2 separate regions of the Homo sapiens genome follow, and region 1 is linked to region 2. A link means that fine-mapping ties the variant in region 2 to the expression of a gene that starts in the linked region. Tissue or cell type: whole blood. Region 2 holds a variant in brackets; the other region holds the start of a gene. All regions are shown on one strand. Distances are from middle to middle.

What was found. PIP is the estimated chance that this variant, and not a neighbour inherited with it, causes the effect.
Region 1: it holds the start of AKAP13, and the variant in region 2 is fine-mapped to the expression of AKAP13 in whole blood (TOPMed, PIP 0.93).

The regions. Positions count from the first base shown.
Region 1 is chr15:85,379,427-85,382,110 of GRCh38, reverse strand. It overlaps AKAP13 (A-kinase anchoring protein 13), which reads right to left and starts at 1,508. Exons shown (of 37, transcript NM_007200.5): 1 at 1,313-1,508. MIR7706 (microRNA 7706) reads right to left here and starts at 1,515; the gene lies at 1,449-1,515. RefSeq lists silencers at 804-971, 628-1,197, 1,578-1,657.
Region 2 is chr15:85,691,972-85,694,655 of GRCh38, reverse strand. It overlaps AKAP13 (A-kinase anchoring protein 13), which reads right to left. Exons shown (of 37, transcript NM_007200.5): 17 at 1,205-1,379. Among named protein-coding and RNA genes, the nearest start is that of LINC02883, 65 kb to the left of the region's middle. RefSeq lists enhancers at 1,387-1,436, 1,877-1,926. The variant T/C (reference allele first, on the strand shown) is at 1,175.

The DNA.
Region 1 (2,684 bases), 310 kb after region 2:
ATCATGTTCATATAATAAGCCACACAAACCAAATTAAGTGTAATATGTGCACCCAAACTTGACAAAACTTGTACTTAATGCAGCCTGCAAATCCCCAAGAGTCCACGACAGAATACAAGAATAGTAACAATGATTTATCTCAACTGATCTTAGCTTCTTCACAAACTTGCCAATAATGACCTTTCAAGAACTGCACCGTTTGTCCTCATCTGCGCAATCCAACAGTTCAGAAAAACTGAAGAAAATGCTTCTTCTAAAAATAAAACACTTGTTGTGGGGGGGACTACTAACAAAAAAAAAGGCACACTGGTTTTTACTGTACTGAAGCAATAAACTCTCCAAATAACTTCATTAAGGAGTGTCATTAGCAAAGAATGAACACCAAAATACCGCTCAATCCAATTTTCATTGTGAATTCCGGGATCTAGAAAATTAAATGGGACGGTATCACTCTGCTATAAGAACTATTTCCAAAACAAAACAAACCTATCTACCCCCTTTCTTGATTTTTTTTTAAAAAGTTTTAGGGTTTTTCCTTTTTTCAACTTCACATACTTCGTGGCTTTGCAAAAAAAAAAAAAAAAAAAAAGCAGTAAACCGTATTTACCAAAAAAAAAAAAAAAAGTTTTGTTTGGTATCAAAGTATAGCTGCAAGCTGAGCCGGCTGGCTGCACGGGTCCCAGAGCGCGTGGGGACCGCACGGGTCTCCTGGGCCGCTCGCCTGCGACCCGCGCGGGTCAGCTGGGCCGCACCCCCGAGAAGCCGCGGAGAGGCACCGACAGGCAGGCGCGGCCCGACGTGTTTACCGTCCGCGTCGACCCCGGGGAGCCGCTCCCTCGCGCCCGCAGCACTTGTTCACGGCGCGGACTCCACGGCGGGGACTCCACACCGCGGCCGCCCGCCCCAGGGGAGGAGTGAGCCCGCCCCGGCGGCGCCGACCCGGGGACCCGGGGCAAGGATTCGGGGCCTCGCTGGGGGCGGAGCGCCTGAGGTAGCATCGGCGGCCGGGCGCGCCCCCCACCCGGAAAGCGGCGACGGCCTCTAAGTTGGGCTGCGGAGTGGGAGGCGCGCCGAGCCCCAAGCAGACAATGCGGGAGAAGGGCGATGCGCAGGGAGGAGGGGTCCGCAGACCTGAGGTCCCGGCGCCGCCCGGCGACCCGTCTGTCCAGCCCGCCCCCGAAACCCCCGCAGCCCCCGCCCCTCCTCCGGGGCCCGCCCCACCGAGCAACCGCAGGGGACTGGCCGCGCTCCGCGCCCCGACCCACAAATCACAAAACTTCCCCCAACTCCGCCAACTAAGTTGCGCTCTCACCGTGCGGCTCCCGGGGCTCCCCCGCGGGCCGAGCTGGGACAACTCTTCACCTTCGCCGCGGAGAAAGACAATAGGCGGCCGCTCCCCCGGAGGCGGCTAAAGCGGCGGCGACCGAGGCGAGCAATGGGCACGGCAGTCTCGGCAGAGCACAGGCGCTTCACCGCGGCTGCTCGGGCTCCGCGCTGGCCCTGCACACAGCTCCAGTCCGCGCATGCGCCGAAAGACGCTCGGGAGGGTGGGCGGGGCACGCGGGAAGGCGGTAACGCCTGCGAGTCCTCCCGTGAGTACACGCGGAGCAAGAACTGCGAGCTGGGATTGCACGGCAGAACTGCCCATCTCGCTGCATGAGACCAATAGTAAGGCTCCTGGACGGGGCACTCAGGTTGCTAAGGGAGGCTGAGGTTGACCGCCGCTGCTGCTCGGCGGCAAAGTGATCAAAGTAGGGTGGCTGGCAGAGGCTGCTCTGGGAAATGCCCACCCACGGTCTCCTCTCCGCCCTGTCTCCAGAAACCGCCCTTCCTCTGTGTACTGGTGGTTACCTGAGCTGCAGCACTTAACCACACATCGTGAAATGATTTACTCCTCTATTTCCCCCACTTCAACTCAGGAAGTGGGGTTTAGTCTTCTGTGTCCACAGCCTAGGACCGTCTAAGGTATTAGGTATTAAATATAGGTATTAAACAAGTGTTGGATGGATGCACGGCGCTATGGCGGAATCACAATTGTGACAGTGCATTCCGTGAACTTCTGGCTACTCGATCACCACAAAGTCATTCCGTGTTCGAGCTGCAAAGGACCTCAAAAATCATCTGGTTGCTTTGGGAAACAAAATGTGGTCCGTGTACCAATGGTGCCGGTAACCACCGGCCCACAGAGGAAGGGCGGTTTCTGGAGACAGGGCGGAGAATATATTAGTTGGTACACGAAGAAACTTCTTTTTTCAAATAGTTAAGTGTTTTTAGTGCGCATTAGGAGGGAAATGCCTATCACGTCAAACCACTGTTTCATTAATGTTATTTCTTAGGTCAAATAAAAAGTGGCAAAAAACGAAAGCACTTCAAGAAAAGTGTTAAGTAAAAAACTGAGACAATTTATATGCAGTTGAAGAACGTGTAAAACTAGTTGATAGTGATTGAAGTAAGAACAGCGGTTAGGTAGGAGGAGAAGATTATTGGCTGGGAAGGAGGAGGAGGGAACCCTCTGGGGTGCTGGTTCTGTATTTTGACCTGGGTGATAGATAACAAAAGTATATACATGAATAAAAAATACATCCAGTGCACTTTAGTGCACTTTGCACATTTTAAACATGTATTTTTAATGTCAGTTTTCAAAAATCTGGTACAGGATATTACCCCCCCGCCCCCAAAAGAAA
Region 2 (2,684 bases):
AATTTTGAGATGCACTGCCTTACAGCAAAAACGTGCAAATTATGGTCTGTGGGCTAAATGTGGCTTGAAGCCTATTTTTGTATAGCCCATGAGCTAAGAATAATTTTTACATTTTAAATAGTTTTTAAAAATCAAAAAACTATTACATAACAAAAATTTTATGAAATTCAAATTTCAGTATCCATAAGTGAAGTTTTATTGGAATCACACTCATTGGTTTATGTATTGCTTACGGCTGCTTTTGCACTGCAACTGCAGAGTTCAAGAATTGTGACAGAGACCATGTGGGTCACGATGCCTAAGATACTTTTTATCTGGTCTTGTACAGAAAAAGTTAAGCAACTCCTGCCTGAGAGTGTCTTATCAAAACCAGGAACAATGCTCAGTTAGCAGACTTGGCTTTCAGCAGGTCAGCACAGAATGTCCCTGAGCACGGAGGTGCTCTCCCTTGGCCGTCACTATGGCTTAATGTTGGTAATGGCTGAAGCATATACCAAAGTAATAGAATAAAAATGAGCACATATGATCTAACAGAAGACCACTGAGTAGCTTTAGGGTTTGGGGTTATGGATAATTTTGATGCTGACACAGACTTTTAAAACGTGCAGTGGTTTAGAGATCATAGAACAGAGTGCAGATGCTCCTCATCCTTTCAATGAGGCTACATCCACATAAACCCATGGTAAATTGAAAATACTATTAAGTCAAAAATGCATTTAAATACACCTAACCTTCTGGACATCATAGTTTAGCCTGGCCTATCTTAAACATGCTCAAAACACTTACATTAGACTATAGTTGGCCAAAATTATCTAGCACAAAGCCAGTTTTATGATAAAGTGTTGACTATCTCATGTAATTTATTGAATACTGCACTAAATGTGAAAAACGAAATGAGTGTACCAGCACTCAAAGTACAGTTTCTACTGAACGTGTATTGCTTTTGAACCACTGTAAAGTTAAAAAGCTAGGCTGAACCATCTTAACTTGACTGTATTTGAAATTGGGGCTGTCTGAAAAAAATATAGGCTGTATGTTATACATCTAGAATTTCTTTCTTTTATCATGTCTAAAGAAAGATATAAAAAGGGTTACTTCTCCACATAAATGAGGAACAGATAATGAGTGGGGACAGGAAACAAGAAATGAGCTTTCTTGAGCCAAGAGAGTTCCA[T/C]CTTACGAGAGGAAGAAGCATGTCTCTTACTTGCACAAGTATAGGCATCTTTGTTGGTGAAGGGCTTCATACACTGGCTACAGCTGATGGGACCCACAACAGGAATGGAACTGAAAGTGTGCCCGTTGACAGTCTTCTTATCTTTCTCCTTGTCTTTAGAATCTTTCTCCTTCTCCTTAATCTTATCTTTTTCTTTTTCCTTTTCCTGCCGAAGAAAAGAAAATAATCCACAGTTAATTGAACACTGGAGGGCTTTCTCCTTACCTGGGCACCCAGATGGCATGTGGTTAACAACAGCTGGTGACTATTTTGGAAAGGAGTGAGAAACAAAGTTCTGGGCAAAGTGTTTTGTTTTGTTTTTTTAAATTAAGGCGTTGGCACGCAAGCTACATTAGAAAATTCACACGAAAACTGGGCAGGCGGAACAGTTCTGGCAGTGGCTTATTCATTGGTTACTTCTACCAACAGACACAATACCCAAGGACCAGCACTGCAAGGAGGCTTCTGACACCTCAGTACAGCCCTTCCTCAGCAAGCTACAGCACAGTCCACACAGGAAGAGAGTCATGGGTTTAGGGCCAGCTTTAGGCAGAGGGCAGAAAAAAGGGTGGCAGCAATTCTGGGATCAGCCTGAGGGAAAAAAAGATGCCTGGGTGGCATGAAAAATTACCGAGGCTCCTCTCTTTCTCACATCAATTGCATATCCCTAAGTGACGGAGTATGTATAAAGTCTCCTCCTTTACTCTAGTTAGAAATATTAAATATGCCCCACATATACATTTTCAGTTTCTGCTAATTAGAATTTTAAGGTTTGTAAATATTAACTTTGCCCTAATTTTCAAACCGGCAAGAGGAGACTGATAAGAAGGGGAGGCTGGAAAACCGTACAGTGGTTAAGAATACGGACGATGGTACCAGACCTCGGTTCAGATTCAGGTACTACTACCACTACTACCACTACTGCCACCACCACCACCACCACCATCACCACCACCACCACTACTACTACTCAGTAATAGCGTGACCCTAGGTAAATTATTTCTCTGAGCCTTAGTTTTCTCATTTGTCAAATGGGAGTAATCACAAAAGTACCCATCTCATATGTTTTTTAAAACATATGACAATTAGGTGAGATAATACATTTCTAAAGCATTTTGCACAGTGCCTGGCACACAGTGAATACACAATAATGCTTAGCAATATTATTAATTACTCATAATTTACTGGAAATGAGTTTCATTAGCTCATTATTCTCCTAAGCCAACACAGAAAGGTATTGCTTGCAGTAAGGGAAAGGAAGTTTTGATGTGAGCAGGGAAGATAGAAGAAATTGGGGAGTGGCTAAAGGACAACGGTGCAGGGCAGGGAGGATAGGAGAATGCACGGATGACAGGAAGGAGCCTTGTTAATAATTTTTCTCAAAAACCACCTTTGTTGTTCCTCAAGCTAGATACCAACAGGGTCACTTCCTTTAAAAAAATGGGGTTCCAGGGAAAGGAAGTCCCAAGGC